Linked DNA regions of Homo sapiens. The protein of the gene in region 1 interacts with the protein of each later gene in a biochemical or structural test. Each region holds a gene or a part of one and is shown in the gene's direction. Other genes may lie near its edges. The genes, in order: CHEK2, RB1, USP39, FHL3, MED1, RNF8 and PPP2CA.

What was found.
Region 2: the proteins of CHEK2 (region 1) and RB1 form a complex in vitro, tested with the Homo sapiens proteins (one study listed by BioGRID and IntAct).
Region 3: the proteins of CHEK2 (region 1) and USP39 form a complex in vitro, tested with the Homo sapiens proteins (one study listed by BioGRID).
Region 4: the proteins of CHEK2 (region 1) and FHL3 interact in a test that uses a peptide from one of them, tested with the Homo sapiens proteins (one study listed by BioGRID).
Region 5: the proteins of CHEK2 (region 1) and MED1 form a complex in vitro, tested with the Homo sapiens proteins (one study listed by BioGRID).
Region 6: of the proteins of CHEK2 (region 1) and RNF8, one has a biochemical effect on the other in vitro, tested with the Homo sapiens proteins (one study listed by BioGRID).
Region 7: of the proteins of CHEK2 (region 1) and PPP2CA, one has a biochemical effect on the other in vitro, tested with the Homo sapiens proteins (2 studies listed by BioGRID).

What each region holds. Positions count from the first base shown.
Region 1 is NC_000022.11:28,689,821-28,693,320, reverse strand, and holds part of CHEK2 (serine/threonine-protein kinase Chk2), read left to right. Parts: intron 1-3,500. UniProt on the Homo sapiens protein: Serine/threonine-protein kinase which is required for checkpoint-mediated cell cycle arrest, activation of DNA repair and apoptosis in response to the presence of DNA double-strand breaks.
Region 2 is NC_000013.11:48,376,751-48,380,250, forward strand, and holds part of RB1 (retinoblastoma-associated protein), read left to right. Parts: intron 1-167; coding exon 168-284; intron 285-2,843; coding exon 2,844-2,900; intron 2,901-3,084; exon of another isoform or gene 3,085-3,124; intron 3,125-3,302; coding exon 3,303-3,334; intron 3,335-3,414; coding exon 3,415-3,491; intron 3,492-3,500. UniProt on the Homo sapiens protein: Tumor suppressor that is a key regulator of the G1/S transition of the cell cycle. The hypophosphorylated form binds transcription regulators of the E2F family, preventing transcription of E2F-responsive genes.
Region 3 is NC_000002.12:85,622,686-85,626,185, forward strand, and holds part of USP39 (ubiquitin carboxyl-terminal hydrolase 39), read left to right. Parts: intron 1-940; coding exon of another isoform or gene 941-960; coding exon 961-1,097; intron 1,098-2,853; coding exon 2,854-3,006; intron 3,007-3,500.
Region 4 is NC_000001.11:37,996,270-37,999,392, reverse strand, and holds the end of FHL3 (four and a half LIM domains protein 3), read left to right. Parts: coding exon 1-136; intron 137-244; coding exon 245-419; intron 420-1,260; coding exon 1,261-1,430; intron 1,431-1,522; coding exon 1,523-1,709; intron 1,710-1,833; coding exon 1,834-1,988; 3' UTR 1,989-2,623; downstream 2,624-3,123. UniProt on the Homo sapiens protein: Recruited by SOX15 to FOXK1 promoters where it acts as a transcriptional coactivator of FOXK1.
Region 5 is NC_000017.11:39,444,764-39,448,263, reverse strand, and holds part of MED1 (mediator of RNA polymerase II transcription subunit 1), read left to right. Parts: intron 1-359; coding exon 360-466; intron 467-3,500. UniProt on the Homo sapiens protein: Component of the Mediator complex, a coactivator involved in the regulated transcription of nearly all RNA polymerase II-dependent genes.
Region 6 is NC_000006.12:37,370,983-37,374,482, forward strand, and holds part of RNF8 (E3 ubiquitin-protein ligase RNF8), read left to right. Parts: intron 1-529; coding exon 530-592; intron 593-3,500. UniProt on the Homo sapiens protein: E3 ubiquitin-protein ligase that plays a key role in DNA damage signaling via 2 distinct roles: by mediating the 'Lys-63'-linked ubiquitination of histones H2A and H2AX and promoting the recruitment of DNA repair proteins at double-strand breaks (DSBs) sites, and by catalyzing 'Lys-48'-linked ubiquitination to remove target proteins from DNA damage sites.
Region 7 is NC_000005.10:134,205,574-134,209,073, reverse strand, and holds part of PPP2CA (serine/threonine-protein phosphatase 2A catalytic subunit alpha isoform), read left to right. Parts: intron 1-2,942; coding exon 2,943-3,152; intron 3,153-3,500. UniProt on the Homo sapiens protein: Catalytic subunit of protein phosphatase 2A (PP2A), a serine/threonine phosphatase involved in the regulation of a wide variety of enzymes, signal transduction pathways, and cellular events.

The sequences.
Region 1 (3,500 bases):
TCTGTATTACCGCTGTGCTCCTGCTAGGGGTTGGGGCTGCCATTTTTAAATGCTGACCTCATCTGGAACTGCCAAGAGTTGGAAGTATGTTGTGGCTTTGCTGGGTTAATCTTTAGTTTTAGAATTAGCCACGGCATTGGGCAGGTTTTTCTGATAGATGTCTGGTCTTCTGTAATGAGCAGTTCCATTCAGCACAGACATGCCCCTTTCTATGAATTTTTTTTTGGTTTGTGTATTAGTCTGTTCTCACACTGCTATAAAGAACTGCCCAAGACTGGGTAATTTACAAAGAAAAGAGGTTTAACTGACTCACAGCTGCACATGGCTGGGGAGGCCTCAGGAAACTTATAATCATGGTGGAAGGGGAAGAAGGCATGTCTTAATGGCAGCAGGTGAGAGAGCTTGTGAAGGAAGTGAAGGGCGAAGATCCTCTTATGAAACTGTCAGATCTGGTGAGAACTCACTCACTATCACGAGAATAGCCTGGGGGAAACTGCCCCCATGAGCCAATCACCTCTCAACAGGTCCCTTTCTCAACACCTGGGGATTACAATTTGAGATGAGATTTGGGTAGGGACACAAAGCCAAACTGTATCAATCCGTTTTCTGTGGAGATGGGGGACAGAACTGGTAGCTTGAGCTAGAGGCTGTTACTTGAGCTAAATGCTGTTTCTCTGGGGATTACTGGTCCAGGAACTCCTTGGGCAGTCCAGCCTCCGACCCGTACTTCTGGGACTCTGGGAAGACTGTCCCTGTTCTCTGTTCCAATCCTCTACACCTAACAGTTTTGCTCAGGCCAGCTCAGGTTGAGAACAACAAAAACTTAAAACAAACAAACAAACAAACAAAAAAAGACATATATGTGTTTGGATGTTGCCCTGGAAACTACAGTCTCCCCAGAAGAAATCTGTCAGATGATTTAGCATTTAATAGACCACACAGATTTGAAACAGTGGGACCCTGGAGGAAAGGGGTTTGGAAACAAAGGGTGCCTTTGCATGTGGGGATTTTAATTTTGATGAAAAAGAGAAACATGTCTTTTGGCTCTTTTCATGTGTCCTAATAGGGAAACTCTTGGGTCTAAATGTAGAGGTACAGGAGCTGTGTTCATCTCTAACAAAAAATAGAGCTGGCCAGTTGAGCCTGGGAACAGGGTTTGCATCTGCCTGAAATTTATGAGCAAGCATAGCCTATCTTTCTTGTACTTTTTTGTGTCAAAGAAAACTTATTAACAACCAAGGAGAAGGTGAAGTTCAACTCTGTTGCAGGATCTCCCTGGAATACTCTTTTAGCCACCTTTTGTTTTTGCAGTGAAAGGAGGAATGAGCATTGAATGAAGACAAGGATGAAGACTGACCATCTAAAACATCTGTTAGTGATAGTTTGGGTTTTATTTTGGGAAAATTCAGTGTTTTTGAAAAAACCAAATGGTTTTGTGGGTCTGTCGCTGAACTGAGTGTTGGGAATGTGGATTCTGGTCTCTGTTTTGTCATTAACAGAGTGCCCAGTTTTGGGAGCATCCCTTACATCTACTCTCTGCCTCATATTTACTGCCTGAAATAGAGGATTTCTTCTGTTTACTTTCAAGGGATATTACAATTTAATTTTTATTTTATTTACTGTTGGAGACAAGGTCTTCTTCTGTTGCCTAAACTGGAGTGCACTGGTGCAATTATAGCTCACTGCAGCCTTGATCTCCTGGCCTTAAGGGATCCTCCCGCCTCAGCCTCACAAAGTGCTTGGATAATAGGCACGAGCCACTGTTCCTGGCTAATTTAATATTTTGGAATAATTGTAGACATCATGAAGAAAATCAATGTTTATTTATTTATTTCCTTTTTTGAGATGGAGTCTTGCTTTTGTCTACCAGGCTGGAGTGCAATGGTGTGATCTCAGCTCACTGCAACCTCTACCTCTGGGTTCAAGTGATTCTCCTGCATCAGCCTCCCAAGTGGCTGGGATTACAGGTGCCTGCCACCATCCCAGCTCATTTTTGTATTTTTAGTAGAGATGGGGTTTCACCATGTTGGTCAGACTGGTCTCGAACTCCTGACCTCAGGTTATCTACCCACCTTGGCCTCCCAAAGTGCTGGGATTCCAGGCATGAGCCACTGTGCCTGACCTGATTACTTGTTTTAAATACAGGCCTGATTAGGCTTGTGACCACTCTGTTTGGCTTCACTGAAGGGCTGCCAAGAGATGGACTTTTGAGAGTGACACTGCAAGATAATTGAGATCCTAAGTAAGGCCGTGAGAGGGTGCGGAGTAGAATCCAGATGAGCTTGCTGCTGTCAAATGGCAATGGGGAGCTACACTGAGAAACTCAAAACAGAGTGACCTCAAGTGATCTGCCCTGCCTTGGCCTCCCAAAGTGCTGGGATTACAGGCGTGAGCCACTGTGCCTGGTCCTTCTTTCCTTCTTTCTTTCTTCCTCCTTCCTTCCCCCTCCCCTCTCCTCCATTCCTTTCCCCTCCCTTCTTTCGTCCCCCCTCCCCTTTTTCCTTCCTTGCTTCTTTCCTTTCTTCCTTCCTCAGGGTCTTGCTCTCTCACCTAGGCTGGAGTGCAGTGGCATGATCACTGCACCATGACTTTCAGGCTCAAGTGATCCTCCTGCCCCAGCCTCCCAAGTAGCTGAGACTACAGGTGCATGCCACCATGTCTGGCTAATTTAAATTTTTTTTTTTTTTTTTTTGGAGACAGTGTTGTACTCTTTTGCCCAGGCTGGAGTGCAGTGGTGTGATCCTGGCTTACTGCAACCTCCGCCTCTTGAGTTCAAGCGATTCTCCTGCCTCAGCCTCCTGAGTAGCTGGGATTACAGGCGTGCACTACCATGCCCTGCTTATTTTGTATTTTTAGTAGAGAAGGGGTTTCACCATGTTAGCCAGGCTGATCTCAAACTTCCGACCTCAGGCGATTCGCCTGCCTTGGCCTCCCAAAGTGCTGGGATTACAGGCGTGAGCCTCCGTGCCTGGCCTAATTTTTAATTTTTTTTGTAGTGACGAAGTCCCACTATGTTGCCCAGGCTGGTCTCAAATTCCTGGCCTCAAGCAATTCTCCCACCTTGGCCTCCCAAAGTGCTGGGATTATAGGCATGAGCCACCATGCCCAACCTAGTGTTGTAAAATTTCCATATCCATCAAATTGCCAAATGGTGGAGGACTTTACTGTATCCTCTCCCTTTCCCCACTGTGGTATGCTTGGCTCAGTGGGAGGAGGGGCTGGAGTTGGGTGGGAAAGTACATGAGGCACTGGAATCAGATAACTCTGGGTCTGTATTCTGCACATGCCACCTGTGAGTGGCTGAGCTGGGCTTCTGGCCAGCACTCAAAGGCCACATTCCTAGTTATGGATGTTCCTTTCACCTTGCTGAAGATGGGGAGAGCTGCACCAGACCACCTCTCAGGGTTTCCTAATGCAAATCCTCGAACCCTGCAGAAGTGAGCATCCAGAGAGGTGGGAGCTACTCGCATACACACTGTCTGTGCCCTCCTCATCTCCTG
Region 2 (3,500 bases), on another chromosome or scaffold:
GAAATGATATTGTCTGCTTATGTTCAGTAGTTGTGGTTACCTAGTTATTATGGAAGTGTTTCCACATTTTTATGAACAATTTAAAAAGTCATATATTATGGAGCAGAAAATATTAATTCTGATTACACAGTATCCTCGACATTGATTTCTGTTTTTACCTCCTAAAGAACTGCACAGTGAATCCAAAAGAAAGTATACTGAAAAGAGTGAAGGATATAGGATACATCTTTAAAGAGAAATTTGCTAAAGCTGTGGGACAGGGTTGTGTCGAAATTGGATCACAGGTAACTTGAATTCATTGTAATTCGTGGTACTATAGAGTAATAATATTAAAAGCAGCATCTTTCCAGTTCGTATAAATACTCTAACAGTATTTGTCTAGTAGTATAAAATACTGTCAGATACTATATCCCTGCTGCCTGTGTATGCTGCTATTTATGGGTAACTTTATGGAAAACTACCTCCCACCCCATTATAAAAACTATGTAATAAAGGAACACATAGCCATTGTAGAAATTTTGGAAAATACAACTAAGAAAAAAATTGAAATCTTTGATATTAAATTTTTGATTTTGCTTTGACTTCTACATGTATGACTGTTCATGTATGCATATCCTAATGTGAATGGGACTATACATGCCATTTGTCAGTGATATTATTGAGTGATATTATTTCAGGAAATCTAAAGCTAATATAATAGGTAAGAGTATGGGCCATGGAGTGACAGCCCTGGGTTTATATTTGGTTCTACCATTGTTGATCTTGGACATGTCATTTAACTTCTCTGAGATTCAGGTTCTATATTTGCTCTGCTTTGTTGTGTGGCATTAATGAGGATAATATACAAAAATATATTGGAAAACTGGAGTCCACTGTACACATTTATTTCAGTGTAGTGAGGTTATATTTTGATGCCATCAGTGTTTTAAACATTGATATTTAATGGTTCTTTTTGATTCTACAGCCATGCACCACTTAACAGGGATATGTTCTGACAAATGCATCATTAGGCAATTTTGTTGTGTGAACCTGGTAGAGTGTGTCTGTACAAACCTAGATGGTATAGCCGATTGTACATCTAAGCTGTATGATATAGCCTATTCATTCCTAGGCTACAGGCCTCTACAGCATGTGTACTGAATACTGTAGGTAATGGTAACATAATGTGTTACCATTTGTGTATCTAAATATATCCAAACATAGAAAAGGTAAAGATATAGTACAAAAGATAAAAAATGGAACATTTGCACAGAGCACTTACTATGAAAGGAGCTTACAGGATTGAAAGTTGCTCTGAATGAGTCAGTGAGTCGAGTGGCAAGTGAATGTGAAGGCCTACAATATTACCTATGACATGACTGTACACTATCGTAGACTTTATAAATACTACACTTAGGCTAAACTAATTTCATAAACATTTTTTCTTTCTTCAGTAGTAAATTAACCATAGCTCACTGTAACTTTTTTACTTTATAAATCTTCAGTTTGTAAGAAACTTTTGACTCTTATAACACTTAGCTTAAAACACAAACACCTTATACAGCTGTACAAAAATATTTTCTTTCTTTATAATCCTTATTCTGTACACTTTTTTCTATTTAAAAATTTTTTCAATTTCATAAAGATTTTTGCCAAAAACAAAGGCAAACACACACATTAGCCTAGGCCTACACAGGATCAGGATTAACAATACCACTGTCTTCTGCCTCCAAATTCTGTCCCAAGTCTTCAGGGACAATAAAATGCATAGAGCTGTCAACTCCTATGATGATGATGCTATCTTCTGGAATATCTCCTGAAGGAGCTGCCTGAGGGTGTTTTACATTTAACTTTTTTTTTTTTTTACAAGTAGAAGGAGGATGCTCTAAACTAATAAAAAGTATAGTATAATAAATACATAAACCAGTAACATGTTCATTATTAAGTATTATGTACTGTACATAATTGTATGTACTATACTTTTATATGACTGGCAGTGCAATAGGTTTATTTACATCAGCATCATCACAAAGATGTGAGTAATGTAATGCATTGCACTACATTACACTAAACAATAGGAATTTTTCAGCTCCATTATAATCTTATGGGACTACTGTTAGATATGCAGTCAGTTATTGACCAAAAACGTTGTTATGCGGTGCATGATTATATATGAGATTTTTGCTCTTAGTTTGGAAGGAAATAATATGGTGTGTGTTTATATTTCTAAAATTTGGTTATTCTTTCAAATAATGGGAACTAGTTATTTGGCTAAAACTTCTTGCTCATAAGGTCAGTTTGATCTGATTTTTGCCTGTGTCAGTTTTACTAAATTTATGGACAAAGACTGTCCTCTTAATCCTGGACAGCTATCTTGAAAATACATGTCCTAGGTCATGAGAAATGTTATATAAGGTACATAAAGTGCTTAAAATAGTACTGGGCACATAACCTATCTTTAGTATGAATGATATAAACTGAAATGGAGTTAAGGAAATCCAGGTACTGGACCTACCCTCTTGTTAATTTACTTGGGAATGTTAATCACCACTTAATACTTAAGTTGTGAGTTTTAGACAAGCTAGCTTTTGTGTTGTCTTGGCGGCCATATTTGTAAGAAGGGTGAGAAGTATGTTTTAAGAAAAGGCTTTTTAAAAAATTTTAGTAATTGTCAGCTGGGTATAGTGGTACATGCCTATAATCCCAGCCTCTTGGGAGGCCAAAGCAGGAGGATCTCTTGAGCCCAGGAGTGTGAAGGCCAGCCTGGGCAAAACAGTGAGACTCCATCTCAAAAAAAAAAAAAATTTCATAATTGTGATTTTCTAAAATAGCAGGCTCTTATTTTTCTTTTTGTTTGTTTGTAGCGATACAAACTTGGAGTTCGCTTGTATTACCGAGTAATGGAATCCATGCTTAAATCAGTAAGTTAAAAACAATATAAAAAAATTTCAGCCGGGCGCGGTGGCTCACGCCTGCAATCCCAGCACTTTGGGAGGCCGAGGTGGGCAGATCAGGAGGTCAAGGCATCAAGATCATCCTGGCCAAAATGGTGAAACCCTGTCTCTACTAAAAGTACAAAAATTAGCTGGGCGTGGTGGTGTAGACCTGTAGTCCCAGCTACTTGGCAGGCTGAGGCAGGAGAATCCCTTGAACCAGGGAGGTGGAGGTTGCAGTGAGCCAAGATTGTGCCATTTCACCCCAGCCTGGCAACAGAGCAAGACACCATCTAAAAAAAAAAAAAAAAAAAAAAAAAATTCAATGCTGACACAAATAAGGTTTCAATTAAACAACTTCTTTTTTTTTTTTTAAATTATCTGTTTCAGGAAGAAGAACGATTATCCATTCAAAATTTTAGGTAAATTTTTTACTTTTAGTAAAAAATTTTTTTCTTTTTATAGAAGTAAGTATTTTATAATCTTTTTTTTTTTCCTTTAGCAAACTTCTGAATGACAACATTTTTCATATGTCTTTATTGGCGTGCGCTCTTGAGGTTGTAATGGCCACATATAGCAGTAAGTTAA
Region 3 (3,500 bases), on another chromosome or scaffold:
TTTATCATTTCAACTCATTCACACCAAGCAGATGCCATGTACATAGTATAGTGGAGGATTCAAATGAGGTAAAAACAGCTGGGCACAGTGGTTTACACACCTAATCCTAGCATTTTGGGAGGCCGAGGAGGAGGATTGTTTAAAGTCAAGAGTTCAAGACCCACCTGGCTAACATAGCAAGACCCTGTCTCAAAAAAAGAGATAAAAACTGTATTCTTTGCTCTCGTAAGGAGCTTATAAGGAGTCAAGGTTGACATGTAAAACAACCAGTGAGTTCTGTTAGATCATAAAGATTACTGCTGGACTGTGGCACGGAGTAAAAATAAGTGCAATAGGAGTTGAATGTGCAAAAATCAATGTTAGCTGGAGTGTTTATGTTGAGTTCATGGAAGAGCTGAGGTGGGACTTGAATTGGCAGGACATAGAATTTGAATGGTTAAGGGAGAGAGATTCTAGAAAGGAGTAGCAACATGAAAAAAGTTACATAGATAAAGCATTGTCCTGAATATGGGCATTTGGAAATCCAGGACTGAGTGATGATGGACTGTCATAGGATATGTATGTATTTATGTTTATGTGTATTTATGCACACATATATGCATAGATATTTCTAGTTTCATGTATATAGGAAACTATGTATGAATATATAGTTATATGTATTATATATAGATATATATATAGGTTATATATATTTTACATATATATTAAAAAATAGTGAAATTTGTTTCCCTAATCAATGTCTTAGGCCATTTAGAGAATGAAGTAACTAATGTGCTAGTCTTTCTTGCTAATTTTTTTATGAGAGAACTTCATGTGGAGGATTCATTTTATGAATGGCATAATATTTGTTTTTTGCGGATATTAACATGTTCCGGTAGAAAATAATGAAAGGAAAAGCAAACCTGATCTGTGTGTTCTAGTATCTGCCCTTCTATTACAGCTTTTCACCCTTCCCTACAGGCCGGGGTTTGAAGTCTCACGCCTACATTCACAGTGTCCAGTTTAGCCACCATGTTTTCCTCAACCTCCACACCCTCAAGTTTTACTGCCTTCCAGACAACTATGAGATCATCGATTCCTCATTGGAGGATATCACGGTGTGTGTCTAAGAGGGTTGGTTTGGGGTCCATTCTTTAATGAGCCATCCCAGGGCTCCCAGGGGACTGCCCCACCTGAGGACAGGGAAGAATCTCAGTCCCTTTAGGCATCGAGAGGCTGCTTTCTCTTTTGGGAAGAACTGGGGAAACTGAGTAAGGTCAGAATTCATAATTGCAGCCTGTAGTCTGTAACTTAACTGTCATTTCTACTTGTAACATTGAGGGCTAGGACTGAAGAAATATGGGTGTATTCTGATGGGGTTTAAAGTGTTTTTGTGAAATTATTCTTCTACACTGTGAAGTAGGGATATGAATTGGTCCTGGTGTAGGACAGTATTTACCAAGCTGCACACCGGCTCCTGGCTGCTTTTAACATACGCCGTGGCCAGAGCATCCAGCCACAGATATCTTATCTGTGGGCTCTAGTTTGTGACCTGTGCCAAGAGACACTCATTGTACTGAGCATGGAAAGTCCTCTTGGGTTTGATTAGTGTTGGGCTTTTGATTATTATTTTCCTTTTCAGCACGTGGGGTGTATTCATGGTGCCATGTGCTCTGTTCTTGTTTTTGGTTTTTTTTTTGAGACAGGGTCTCACTTTGTCGCTCAGGCTGGAGTGCAGTGGTGCCATCACAGCTCACTGCAGCCTCGACCTCATGGGTTCAAGTGATACTTTTACTTCAGCTTCCCAAGTAGCTAGGACTGTAGGCGTTACCATCATGCCCAGATACATTTTTAAAATTTTTTGTAGAGATGGAGTCTCACTGCATTGCCTAAGTTGTTCATGCTCTGTTTATTTTTAAGGAAAACGTGGTATTTAGTCTTTGAAATACTGCTTTTTCTACTTGTAAAAGTTGTATAAGCCTATTATTAATAGTTGAGATTAAAATAGTTATGGACAGGCTTGGTGGGGAGGCCCACACCTGTAATCCCAGCACTTTGGGAGGCCGAGGCAGGTGGGTCATTTGAGGTCAGGAGTTTGAGACCAGCCTGACCAACATGATGAGACCCCGTTTCTACTAGAAATACAAAATTAGCCGGGCATGATGGCACATGCCTGTAATCCCAGCTACTTGGGAGGCTGAGGCAGGAGAGTTGCTTGAATCTGGGAGGGGGAGGTTGCAGTGAGCCAAGATCATGCCATGGCACTCTAGTCTAGGCAACAAGAGCAAAACTCCATCTAAAAAAAAAAAAAAAAGTTATGGTCAGTATTTATAGAGGGAAAAACTGGGCTAAATTCAGTGTTTCAAAGTGAGTTTGCGATGATCTCTGTCCAGTCTGTGACATAATGACTGTGGTAACTCTGTGCCTGGGAAGAGTCTGATCCTGCTCTTCCAGTACCAGGGACTCATGGAGATCCTCATTCCCACCCAGAGTGGAGGAAACTCTCCTGCTCCAAAGCTAGGTCCATGTGCTGCTCCCAGGAGGTTCTATCTGAGACTTAGACTGCCTTTAGGAACTTGAGTATTGTATGGTTTCTGGCAGTCAGTTTTCATGAGTTGACCAGACCTGAGGTCGGCGAAAAGACCTGGGATTCAGTGATTTTGGGATAGACACAGAGATCCCCTTGTAGATTAGCCATGGGAGAGGATCTACTCCGTGTTACTTCAATCTTTACACCTACTGGTTCGGACTATTTTTCTGTGTGTGGTGGGATGTTCATGGCCAAGTGTTTTTTGTTTTTGTAGAAATTACTGTTACAGACATTTCTTGTGAACTCAGCTCTTAAACAACTTAGCATTTTCTTTTGCTTTGCAGTATGTGTTGAAGCCCACTTTCACAAAGCAGCAAATTGCAAACTTGGACAAGCAAGCCAAATTGTCCCGGGCATATGATGGTACCACTTACCTGCCGGGTATTGTGGGACTGAATAACATAAAGGCCAATGATTATGCCAACGCTGTCCTTCAGGTAAGATCAAGACGGGAACATTGAGGAAGAGAAGGACACCCAGAAGGCTGAGCACAGTGGCTCACCCCTGTAATCCCAGCACTTTGGGAGGCCAAGGCAGGCGGATTGCCTGAGGTCAAGAGTTTGAGCCAGCCTGGCCAACATGGAGAAACCCTGTCTCTACTAAAAATACAAAAATTAGCTAGATATGGTGGTGGAAGCCTGTAGTCCCAGCTATTTGGCAGGCTGAGGTGGGAGAATCGCTTGAATCCGGGAGGCAGAGGTTATAGTGACCCGAGATCGCGCCACTGCACTCCAGCCTGGGGAACAGTGAGACTCTGTTTCAAGAAAAAAAAAAGAGAGGGACAGGAAATAGTATGTGTACTGGCCAAGAAATTACTGCCTTCGGCCAGGCGCAGTGGCTCATACCTGTAATCCCAGCACTTTGGGAGGCCAAGGCGGGAGGATCACCTGAGGTCAGGAGTTCGAGACTAGCTTGGCCAACATGGAGAAAC
Region 4 (3,123 bases), on another chromosome or scaffold:
TGCAAAATGCAACGAGTCCCTGTATGGACGCAAGTACATCCAGACAGACAGCGGCCCCTACTGTGTGCCCTGCTATGACAATACCTTTGCCAACACCTGTGCTGAGTGCCAGCAGCTTATCGGGCATGACTCGAGGGTAAGGAGAGGGCCAGGCCAGGCAGGAGGTGGGTGGTGACCAGTGGAAGGGGGCAAAGGATGGGTCCATGAGGCCTGGGTGCCAGTGCCCCTGCTGTGTTCCCCACAGGAGCTGTTCTATGAAGACCGCCATTTCCACGAGGGCTGCTTCCGCTGCTGCCGCTGCCAGCGCTCACTAGCCGATGAACCCTTCACCTGCCAGGACAGTGAGCTGCTCTGCAATGACTGCTACTGCAGTGCGTTTTCCTCGCAGTGCTCCGCTTGTGGGGAGACTGTCATGCCTGGTATGTGTTCAGGGGCTCATCTTGTGTGAGAACTGGCATCTGCGTAGGGTCTTTGCATGTGTCTGTCTGATACATGGAGACTTGGTCTGTGTAAAGACCTGCATACACAGCATGTTTCTGGAAATTTAGTATATACGGGATCTGTTTGCCTGGTATACTCCTGGGGGCTACTATGTACAGGCAGATTGACACATGTGATACATACTTGGGGGCTTAGCATGTGTGAATATCTGCATGTTTAGTACAGGTAGGAACTAGAGGTGTGCTGAGACTGTCATGCTTGTTGCATTGGGTCTTAATGTATGCAGAAGCAGATAAACAGAGGGCTTAACATGTGTGGGGACCTGCATGCCTAATAGAAATGCTGGGACTCAGCACCTATGGAGAATGGTGTGCCGAGGAGATGCGAGGGCTTAGCATGTACCGAACCTGTCATGCCCAGGGCATTAGAACTTTGTGTGGGCAGATACTTACTTGCCTGGTACATGTGGGGTCCCATGTGAGTGCTAAAATCATCACATCTGTTATATGAGGGCTTAGCTCTTAGTGAGACTTCATGACTGTTACATGGAGGCTTGATGTGTGCTGAAATTGTCATCTCTGGGACATATGGGGGCTTAACATAGGCCAAAACCCTCGTGTCTAGCTGGGTCATCATGTCCGGTGTCTGGGGAGAGGTTAGCATGTGTAATATACATAGGGCGGGGGGGTTCTTGCTGCATGTGCACGGACACCACCCTGCTCACGCTGAGAGAGGAGTGGAGACTCCTGGGGAAGTTACAGAGGGTGGCCCTCAGGAGCATGGGACACAACCTCTAAATGGGACCCCTGTTCCCCACAGGGTCCCGGAAGCTGGAATATGGAGGCCAGACATGGCATGAGCACTGCTTCCTGTGCAGTGGCTGTGAACAGCCACTGGGCTCCCGTTCTTTTGTGCCCGACAAGGGTGCTCACTACTGCGTGCCCTGCTATGAGAACAAGTTTGCTCCTCGCTGCGCCCGCTGCAGCAAGGTGGGGGCTGGGCCAGCCAGGTGGGGGTGAGTGAGGCCTGTTGTGGGGTGGGAATCCCCACTCATACCTACTAATGGATGCTGCCCCCACAGACGCTGACACAGGGTGGAGTGACATACCGTGATCAGCCGTGGCATCGAGAATGTCTGGTCTGTACCGGATGCCAGACGCCCCTGGCAGGGCAGCAGTTCACCTCCCGGGATGAAGATCCCTACTGTGTGGCCTGTTTTGGAGAACTCTTTGCACCTAAGTGCAGCAGCTGCAAGCGCCCCATCGTAGGTGGGACAAGGGTCAAAGAACGGAGTGGGTAGGGTGCAGGCAAGGGAGTGGGATGTGGTATTGGGTGAGGTTGAGGGCCGGACCATCCCCACATCTGCATAGCTAACTTCCAGCCTCCCTCCAGGACTCGGTGGAGGCAAGTATGTGTCCTTTGAAGACCGACACTGGCACCACAACTGCTTCTCCTGCGCCCGCTGCTCTACCTCCCTGGTGGGCCAGGGCTTCGTACCGGATGGAGACCAAGTGCTCTGCCAGGGCTGTAGCCAGGCAGGGCCCTAAGCCAGGGCTCCTGGACCCAGGCTTTCCCATACCACGGGCCCAGGACTGTGGCTCCTTTTCTAAACCACCTCTGGGACTCAGCTCCCCCCGCCAAAAAAAATGGGTCTCCTTCTGGGCTCCAGGATTGTCTCCCCACTCCAGCATCCCCAAACTGGTACTCCCTGACCCAGGGCCCCAAACCTGGGCTCTTACAGAGCCTCCATGAGTCAAGCCCCCTCCCCACACCTGGACTCCAGAATTCACCCTCTCCCCTGCAGTCTGGGTTCCCAGACTGAGTCCTCTCCCCAAATCAGGGCTCTAGACCCGAGCCCTCCAAACCTGGACTCTGGGACTTAGGCCCCCTTAAATCTAGACTTCTCTTTATAGGTTTCAGGTCTCCTATGGGTGCCTGGGAAGTCCTTGAAAGTGGACTGTTCTCAGGCTTGACCTGCCCCACCCCATCCCCGCGGTTGAGGCTGTGGGGGCAGCAGATCAGGAGCCCACTGATAAGGGGCCCTAGGGTACAGGGTGCTGCCCAGCAGGTCGCCACCGAGTGTCTTCTCATTTTATTTCAGCTCCATTTTGCCCATAGATGGGCAGAGGGGTGAGATTGGCTCATCCCCCTTCCAGATTCTGCAATAAAGCGGTGTGAGGAAGCAGGGGCCTCCGTGTGTGTGTGTGTGTGTGTGTGTGTGTGTGTGTGTGTGTGTTCAGGGTATAATGGGGAAGGAAGGGTTTTTGCAGACTGGGAGGCTCAGAATCTCTGCTAGACCTCATCCTTGCAGGGTGGGGTGGAGGGGGGCCGGGCCATGGGGTGGGAAGTCTCTCCCCATGAAGGGGATCCCCGCCACAGCTACCCTCCCTCTGGAGCTCGTCCTGCCTCCCTGCTGGCAGAGGGCTTTTTCCCTCATGTAGGGAAGGGAGGGGTTTGGGGGAGGTTCCAGATGAAAGCCAGGGTGGCGGTGGGGTTCCTTAATTGGCTGGTACGAATAGTCTCCTCCGCCAACAGCCCTGCCCAAAGCCCGCAGAGCAAGGACCTGGTTCCGATCCCCAGTCTGGGCCCAGACCCTCTCAGCCCCCTTCCCCCTCTTCCCAAGGATTAGCAAGGGCGGCCCAGGATCCTCTCGCGGCCGCACGTTTTTTGCCAAAAAAGGCA
Region 5 (3,500 bases), on another chromosome or scaffold:
CAAGTAGCTGGGATTACAGGCATGCACCACCACATCTGGCTAATTTTGTATTTTCGGTAGAGACAGGGTTTGACACTCCAGCCTGGTCATCAAGAGTGAAACTTAGTCTTTAAAAAAAAAAAAAAAAAGGTGGATAGATAACAGTCCAGTGGTATGGTATTCCTTACATCAGACCCATAACTTGTGTGTCATCTTGCCATTAAAAATGTCTTCTTTGGATGTTTTGAAGTAAAATGATTTTGGAAAATATTTTAACTGAATTCTTACTGTGATGAAGTGTGGGAATTTATTTTGCAAGGAAAACTGTGGATGGTCTTGATAGAACAGTTACTGATAACGTTTTCTGATTTAAATCATAGAGTCAGAAAAGCTGAGTAAGATGAGTTCTCTCCTGGAACGGCTCCATGCAAAATTTAACCAAAATAGACCCTGGAGTGAAACCATTAAGCTTGTGCGTCAAGTCATGGTAAGGATTGTGGTGAAGTGGGTAAAGTGTTTTGCTTAGATAATTATTCTTAATACGCTAAGCTCCCCATGTAGATGTGTTCATACTATCTTCATAAAACATCTGAATACATGGTGGTTTCAACTTTAGGAGTCTATTGTATCTATACTACAGGTTGAATATCCCTTATATGAAATGCTTGGGACCGGAAGTGTTTTAGATTTTGGATTGTTTTGGATTTTGGAATATTTGCAAATATATAATGAGATATCTTGGGGATGGGACCCAAGTCTAAACACATAATTTATTTATGTTTCATAAACACCTTATAGATATAGCCTGAAGGTAATTTTATACAACATATTTAATAATATATTTAATACTTTTGTGTGTGAAACTAAGTTTTTTTTTGTTTTTTTTTTTTATTGAGACGGAGTTTCACTCTTGTTGCCCAGGCTGGGTTGTAATAGCCCGATCTCGGCTCACTGCAACCTCTGCCTCCCAGGTTCAAGTGATTCTTCTGCCTCAGCCTCCCGAATAGCTGGGATTACAGGCATGCGCCACCACGCCCAGCTAATTTTTATATTATTTGTAGAGACGGGGTTTCTCCATGTTGGTCAGGCTGGTCTTGACCTCCAGACCTCAGGTGATCCACCTGCCTTCGCCTCCCAAAGTGCTGGGATTACAGGCGTGAGCCACCGCGTCCAGCCGTTTTGACTGCATTTTGACTATGACCCTGTTATGTGAGGTCAGGTGTGAAATCCTTGGTGGCATCATTGGGAATGCTAAAAAGGTTTTGGATTTGGGAGCATTTCAGATTTTTGATTTTCAGATTAGGTATGCCCAGCCTGTACTAGTAGAATTTTTGATTCATTCTTTTTTTTGAGACCAGGTCTTATCATCCAGGCTCAAGTGCAGTGGCGCGATCATGGCTCACTGCAGCTTCAACTTCCCAGGCTCAGGTGGTTCTCCCACCTCAGCCTCCTAGTATCTGGAACAACAGGTGCATGTAACCATGTCCAGCTAGTTTTTTTTTTTTTTTCTTTGAGATGGAGTCTTGCTCTGTGGCCAGGCTGGAGTGCAATGGTGCGATCTCGGCTCACTGCAACCTCTGCCTCTTAGGTTCAAGAGATTCCCCTGCGTCAGCCTCCCGAGTAGCCGGGACTACAGGCACACGCCACCACGCCTGGCTAATTTTTTGTATTTTAGTAGAGATGGGGTTTCACCATGTTGGTCAGGATGGTCTCCATCTCCTGACCTCGTGATCTGCCTCCCAAAGTGCTGGGATTACAGGCGTGAGCCACTGTGCCCGGCTGCCCAGCTAGTTTTTTATATTTTTTGTAGAAATCGTTTTTTTTTTTTTTTTTTTGAGATGGAGTGTCGCTTTGTCACCCAGGCTGGAGTGCAGTGGTGCGATCTCGGCTCACTGCAAGCTTTGCCTCCCGGGTTCATGCCGTTCTCCTGCCTCAGCCTCCCGAGTAGCTGGGACTACAGGCCCCTGCCACTATTCCCGGCTAACTTTTTGTATTTTTAGTAGAGACGGGGTTTCACCGTGTTAGCCAGGATGGTCTCGATCTCCTGACCTCGTGATCCACCCGTCTCGGCCTCTCAAAGTGCTGGGATTACAGGCGTAGCCACTGCGCTTAGCCAGAAATAGGTTTTTACTCTGTGGCTCAGGCTGGTCTCAAACTTGTGGGCTCAAGTGATCCACCCACTTTGGCCTCCCAAAGTGTTAGGATTACAGTGTGAGCCACCGTGCCTGGCGGATTCATTTTTTTTTTTTTTTTTTAAAGATGGAATCTCTGTCTGTCACCTAGGCTGGAGTGCAGTGGTGGGATCTTGGCTCACTGCATCCTCCGCCTCCTGGGTTCAAGCGATTCTCCTGCCCCAGCCTCCTGAGTAGCTGGTATTACAGGCATCCGCCACCATGCCCAGTTAATTTTTGTATTTTTAGTAGAGATGGGGTTTCACCATGTTAGCCAGGCTGGTCTTGAACTCCTGACCTTGTGATCCACCTGCCTCAGCCTCCCAAAGTGCTGTGATTACGGGTGTGAGCCCCTGTGCCTGGCCCAGGTTGTCATTTTTATTCCTTAAGGCAACCAAATTCTAGCTTGAAATATGTTCTGTAAATGATACTGTCATTAGAGAGACATTGTGAGATAGAAGGATTCCAGGTGGCTAATAAGGCCCTCTCTTTGGGTACCACTCTCTTGGTTTGGTCACCATGACTTTGCTTGTCTACTTTTCAGTTTTGCAGATTCAGAAACCTAATTTTATTGGTACATCAAGATTTTATAGAGTTTTCATGGCTGGGCGTGGTGGTTCACATCTGTAATCCCAGCACTTTGGGAGGCTGAGGCGGGTCGATCACCTGAGGTCAGGAGTTCGAGACCAGGCTGACCAACAAGGTAAAACCCTGTCTCTACTAAAAAGACAAAATTAGCTGGGCATAGTGGCAGGCGCCTGTAGTCCCAGCTACTCGGGAGGCTGAGACAGCAGAACCGCTTGAACCCGGGAGGTGGAGGTTGCAGTGAGCCAAGATCATGCTACTGCACTCCAGTCTGGGCATCGGAGCGAGACTCCATCTCAAAAAAAAAAAAAGAGTTTTCAACAACTGACATACTGTATGCTTATTTATTAATTTATGACAAAACATTTAGTTTTCCAGTTTTCATAATACTGGTATTCATTGACCAGAGCACCTCTTCTCCTGTCAAGAATCAAGAGATTTCAGATTATTAATAAATTACTTTGTTTTGTAAGGGAGAATTAGAGCAGTGAGATAGATTTATTTGCAACATGGAAAAGCCTGGAAAACTATCCTTATACCAGAAAACTGTTCACGTTTTTAGGGACTGGAATGTTTTTCAGAGAGAAACTTCTTCACTGGATAGGGTTAGGAAAACTAGGCTAAGTTTTTTTTTGTTTGTTTGTTTGTTTTGTTTTGTTTGAGATGGAGTCTCACTCTGTCACCAAGGTTGGAGTGCAATGGTGTGGTCTTGGCTCACTGCAACCTCTGCATCCCCGGGTCAAGCGATTCTCCTGCCTCAGCCTC
Region 6 (3,500 bases), on another chromosome or scaffold:
AGCTTCCACATTGGAGGGGGCTGATGAGGAAATACAGCATAAGCTCAGGCAAGGAGAGAGGAGGAGCAGAGGAGCAGTGTATAAACTGAAGTGGTAAAGACTCAGAATGAGAGACAAGATGGCCAGAGTAGAGGGAAAAGAAGCATGCTAGATGTTGTGAGTGCCAGCACTGGGAATTACATCTGAGTTTAGGTATTTGGGGGCTCAGAAGTTCTCAGTTTACATCCTTTTGGGAATCATGGCGTTAGTCCATGAAGGAGGCTTGGACTGTTAGGCCATAGTATTTCCAGAACAACCCAATTGGTGGCTTAAAGCCGACAGTCCTGAAGTGTGCAGTATTTGAGCAGATAACTGCTCAAATTCTTTACTGCCAACAGCTTGAAGTAAAACAGGAGATTTTCCACCTGCTCCCTCACCCCTGTTGTTTCCAGATGCTCATACTAGCTGGTCTGCTCTGCTTGTTGCTGGATTGTGTTCCTTTTTTTCTTTTCCCTGCAGAGAAACCTTCCATTTTGTTTTGGCTTTGCAGGGTTTGGAGATAGCCCAAGGAGAAAAGGACCTGAAGCAACAGCTGGCCCAGGCTCTGCAGGAGGTAACTTTGCCATAGTACTAAGATTATAGTGGGCTGTGGAGTGGGGAGCAAACAGGCATCACATGACCACTGGCTGCCTCTGCTGCTTAGCCCATACCTCTGTGGCATCCCCAGTCTGTAAACAGAGCAGGTGGCAGCTGCTCACACCATCAGATCAGAGATTTGGAGCCTTACAAACATGCCAGACCTCAGCATGAAAACTTACATCTTTGTCTGAGCAGAAGTTGCTCTGGTGAAGATGGAATGGAGCTTTAGCAGTTAAGAGGCTCTCTGGGGAAGTGGCTCCACTTCTAGAAAGGTGAGGGCAGCAGAGGGAAAATGTGAGGTATGACTTGGCCACCAGGGCCCGTGAAGGCCTCTGTTACCGCAATGTTCCTGAGCTGTAGCCAACCAGAAACAATTGGGGAATGTTCCAGTTAAGCATTTTAGGCCAGGTTGAGAATGTGCAGTTTAACAATCAACAACACATATCAATTTATTGAAAAGGTAAAGCTCAACAGGACTAAAATTCTCCTAAAAGATTGCCTGTAATTTATTTAATTTAACCTGACTACTCTCATTTGATTATTTTTTTGTGTGCTCTTTTGCATCTTTAAAACCTACTATGTCTTCTACCTTTTATGTATTATGATTAGTAGTTTAGTGCCATTTAGTCAGGATGGTTCAAATCTCATTGGAAAGAGTGAGCAAATCACATAGGAATTTGTTCAGGGGAATTTATCCTTTTATCGTAAACCTACTTCCCAACCTTAACAGTGCTAACAGTCATACAGTATTGTAAGCATGACAGGGTGCCTGCCTTGATCTCCTTGAGGGTTGCACAAACAGCTTTGGAAAGAATTAGATGAAAATTAATTCAATCTTTTTAGAATTTTATTTTTTGAGCTTGTTTATTTTCTAGGGTGGGAGAGTAGGCATGTTTCCCATTTGGAACATTATTAAGTTAATATTCAGACATTGTTTTGAAATTGAAAAAGAATGTGGTTCTGCTAGTTGGAAATCCCTGAGGGATCACTGAGTACCCTGCACCCTCTCCTGAGACAGGAAAACACTCTATCATTTTGCATGGGATACTTGGCCATGCATTTATTAGCTTAAAATGTGATACTTTTAGACCGGGCACGGTGGCTCACGCCTGTAATCCCGGCACTTTGGGAGGCCCAGGCAGGCGGATCACCAGAGGTAGGGAGTTCAAGACCAGCCTGACCAACATGGAGAAACCCTGTCTCTACTAAAAATACAAAATTAGCCGGGCGTGGTGGCGCATGCCTGTAATCCCAGCTATTCAGGAGGCTGAGGCAGGAGAATCGCTTGAACCCGGGATGTGGAGGTTGTAGTGAGCTGAGATCGTGCCATTGCTCTCCAGCCTGGGCAACAAGACTCCGTCTCAAAAAAAAGTGATACTTTTAGGTCATGGTTCTATACCATCATGCCTGGGGGACATGCCACTCTCATGCAGTGGTGGTTTTTTGTTCCACCATGCTGATACTTTTGAAAGCTGTTCTTTACCAGACCATTATAAAAACTGTTTTTATAATGGTCTTTTATAACTGATTTCCTGTTTAAATCACATAATACCTTCCTCTCCAATCTCCAAGAAACTACCACATCTTTTTAAACCGAGTGATTCATAAGTTCTCAGGGAATTTGACTATAGTTAGAAATGGGTCCAGACCTTCACTGCCCTAAGCAGTCTGCCAGTCTTTGCTTTGAGTGGAAAAGAAAATAAAAAGATGTGTTTATATACAGCTCAAAAAACTTCTCTGAATGCTTTTCATACCTGTTATTTTCTTATGAACACTGAGGGAGGAGGGGGCACCTATTTTCCCATTTCCTTTTATTTTTATTTTGAGACAGTGTCTCGTTCTGTCACCCAGGCTGGAGTGCAGTGGTGCAATCTCAGCTCACTGCAGCCTCCGCCTCCTGGGCTCAAGTGATCCTCCCACTTCAGCCTCCTGAGTAGCTGGAACCATAGGCGCGCGCCACAATGCCCGACAATTTTTTTGTATTTTTGGTAGAGATGAGGTTTCACCATGTTGCCGAGGCTGGTCTCAAACTCCTGAGCTCAAGCCATCCACCCGGCTCAGCCTCCCAAAGTGCTGGGATTACAGGTATTATGAGCTACCACGCCCGGCCATATTTTCCCATTTTATAGATGAGAAAGTTAAAATACACATATCTAATTAGTGTGTCAAGTTGAAGACCCAGGCCTTTTGACATAACTGCTTTTTTTTGTCAGGAGATCACACATTTTAAAATTTGGTTCTTGAATAATATCTTTTCAAAAATACTTACCTTTACTCCACCTTCTTTTAAAAAGAATTTGAGGTGAGATTCTAAAGTATAAGCTATACTTAAGCATGAGAGAACTCATAAATTATGTTTCATATATGTGGAACCTCTTGACATTCAGCATAGGCATTTAGTCACAATGAATGAGCTGTTAGCTCCTGGGTGTGCCTTCTTCCAGAAAACACTGGCAGGGTTCAGGCAGCATTGTCTGAGCATGTAATATGTGATTTGTAGAACAAATAGGTTAAAAATCTTTTTTATTTCAATAAAAATGACTATCTAATTCTGCTGATTCCCATTTCCTCCTGATTATTTCATAAAAGCTGCTTCCAGTTCTGAATAGCTTTTAATTACTTACTAGTTCTTAAATACTGTTCCCAGAATCACTTGGGTGGCTTTAAAAAAAAAGAAAAAAAGAAAAGCACATTTCTGGGCTCCAAGCCAAACCTATAGAAGCAGACTCTGGGACACAGTGAAAGTTCTTCAGTTGACTTGGATGGCCACCAATGTTGGGTTAGTTTTAGAGGCCCTAGTCCATTTGGTGGCCGCCTTCCCTAACTGCCCTCTCCCCTGAAAAAAGCAGCAGGTAGGTAAGATAGCCCAATGGAATAAAGGT
Region 7 (3,500 bases), on another chromosome or scaffold:
AAACCAAACTACTAGATACACTAGTTAAGTTCACTTCATAGTATCTTCTCTCAGGAAATGTGCCTGCATATGTATACAGAGGAGAAAATACGAGGATATATATTGCTGTAGTTTCACACCCCTCTGCCATTGTAATTGGTCAGGGGAATACTCTGCCTCCACTATGAGAAAATAACCAGCTGTCTCAATAAATGTTATGTATTATTATATATTGTTAGAAAAGCAGGCTGCTGAACAATATTGTTTCTAGTTTAAAAATGCAAAGGAAAACTATTGTTTCTGTAGACATACAGTATGTGTGTAAACTTTGTAAACAAAGTTTTAAAGGATATACAGACACTCCCCAATTTTTCGACTTAATGATGGTGTGAAAATGATAGCTATTCAATATACCCCTCAGTTTATGATGGGACTACATCCAGATAAATATATCATAACTTGAAAACATTGTAAGCTGAAAACACACTGTTGACTCGATTATATTTACGATAGGATTATCTGGATGCAGCTGTGTTACAAATTGAGGAGCATCTGTACATCAAAATTTTATTGGTAACTTTGCCCAAAGGGGGTGGGATTGTGTAGGGTGCTCAAAGGGAACATTTCATTTTATCTGTGCCGAAATTTTTTACAAGAATGTATTACTAATTTGTATAGTTTAAAAAATAGATAACACTGTTTATCGGTGTGATTTGCCTAAATTGAAATAAAAGCAACAAATAGCATTTAGACTTAATTTTCCTTCATGATTTGAATAGAAAATTTGAGTCAGTTGTAGTAAGGAACTTCAGGCAGTCCTGAAAGTCAACTTTTTATTATTAATACAGAGAATAGCTTTGCAGATAAACAGATATTCACAGAAGTATATTAACATTTAACTTCTGATAGCTTTAAATGTGAAAATTACATCATGGCAAGATTTACATGGTATATAACCATCTGTTTGCTTATGTCATGCCCTTTTAAAACTTCTGAATAACTTTTGCAAGTTTCTTCTCAGTGTAGGACTTATTTCATTTAGTTATTTTCATTAATATATGATAGGTGTTAAAAAAACACTAGATGTGGTATTAATGCCAGACAGACTTGGTAATGGAATAAGCCTAGTGAATTTGTGTTTTTTAGTGATAGTAAATGGGAAGTTGGAATTACCCTGCAGAGAAAAATTTCAGAATGAAGTAGGATTTGATAATAATGGGTTGTACATATTTCTTAATAGGTATCTCAGGCCAGTATAGTGGCTAACGCCTGTAATTCAGCACTTTGGGAGGCAGAGGTGGGCAAATCATTTAAGCTCAGGAGTTTGAGGCCAGCCTGGACAACATGGTGAAACCTCACCTCTACAAAAAGTGCAAAATAGGCATAGTGGTGCACACCTGTGGTCGCAATTGTTCATGGAGACTGAGGCAGGAGGATCGTTTGAACCTGGGAGGTGGAGGTTATAGTGAGCCGAGATCATGCCACTGTACTCCAGGCTGGTCTGGAACTCCTGGGGTCAAGCCATCCACCCGCCTTAGCGTCCCAAAGTGCAGTGGTTCTTAAACTTGGTTGCACACTGGGAAAAGGAGGGGTGGGGGTGCTTAAAAATTATTGATGGCTTGATTCCAGTCTCCAAAATTCTGACTTTATTAGGGGAAGGAATGGGCATTGGTGTTTTTGTTTTTGTTTTGAGACAGAGTCTTGGTCTGTCACCCAGGCTGGAGTGCAGTGATGCGATCTTGGCTCACGGCAACCTCCACCTCCCAAGTTTAAGCAATTCTCCTGCCTCAGCCTCCCAAGTAGCTGGTACTACAGTCATGCACCACCATGCCTAGCTAGTTTTTTTTATTTTTAGTGGAGATGGGGTTTCGCCATGATGGCCAGGCTGGCCTCAAACTCCTGACCTCAAGTGATCGGCCCGCCTTGGCCTCCCAAAGTGCTGGGATTACAGGTGCGAGCCACCGCGCCTGGCTGGGCATTGGGATTTTTAATGTGCAGCTAAGATTGCATACCAATGCTTTGAACCCAGTCCTTGTCATCTGTGGTTGTCATGGCTCATTAGCAACAATTCTCTGGTAATTTGTTTTGGTATCTTATGTAAAGTGGTCTCTCCCAGTTTCCCTCTCCCTTTCCTTTGTGACACTTAACACAGTGTACTTTTGGCTTGGTTACTTGTTTGTGGTCCTTCTCCCCTCTACGGTAGTGGGAATGAGCCATCTTGTTCACCACTATATGTCCAGTTGCTAGCATGGGGCTGGTACAGATGGTTGAGCAAATGATTTTCTCACAGGTATGAGCCACAGTGCTTGGCCAAAAACATGTTTTTAAAAAGTCAAACAGGGCTGAGGTGAGGTGGCTTATGCATGTAATCCCAGCCCTTGGGAGGATGAGGGTGGAGGATCACGTGAGACCCCGTCTCTACAAAAAAGTTTGTGAAAATTAGCCAGCCATGGTGGCGTGTGCCTGTGGTCCCCACTACTGAGGTGGGAAGATTCCTGAGCCAAGAAGATCCAGGCTACAGTGAGCTATGATCATACTACTGCACTCCAGCCTGGGTGACAAAATGAGACCCTGTCTCAAAAAAAGAAAAAAAAAGAATCTTTGAGTGCTGCATTGTAGTTAGAACTCTGAAGGTAAGGAAGTAGATACCTGAATGTCCTGTTCGATTTTCATTGGTTTTATGTGACAGCTAACAATTAGTATTTAATTAGATGGCTATTTGATAGGTTTTTAAAAAACTCCTGGTATTGATGATAGGAATGCATATTTTTTCCCTAGGTAACAGGGTGAGATAGCTAATGGATTATAATCATATCTCACTTATTTTAATGGGTTCATAAATGCCTGCAATTTTATCTTAGACTGAGTCTGCCCCTTAAGCTACATTAAGTGTAAGTAAACAAATCTTTGTTAATATTGTTTAATGCCAAATGTATTGCCTTATTTTTGTCTCCCATCTGTAGGCTAAAGAAATCCTGACAAAAGAATCCAACGTGCAAGAGGTTCGATGTCCAGTTACTGTCTGTGGAGATGTGCATGGGCAATTTCATGATCTCATGGAACTGTTTAGAATTGGTGGCAAATCACCAGATACAAATTACTTGTTTATGGGAGATTATGTTGACAGAGGATATTATTCAGTTGAAACAGTTACACTGCTTGTAGCTCTTAAGGTAATTTCAATTTTATGTTGGGGCATGTTGAAATGGGTAAGACAGTCCTCTTGAAAGTTTTTTTTCCCCCAGTTATTTTCTCTATCTGAATGTTAAAACAAAATTCCACATTTAGGAATGCATATGTTCAGGTTTTGGACTTAAAAATCATAGGCGTCTGCGTTCTGAGTAAGGGGATGGTACAGAATCAAAACAAAAGGAGGAGAATGAATGCCTCAGTCAGATTGTTTGAAAAAATAGGCTGGGCGTGATGGCTTATGCCTGTAATCCCAGCACTTTGGGACGCTGAGGTAGGCAGATCACCTGAGGTCAGGAGTTCGAGACCAGCCTGGAGAACATGGTGAAGCC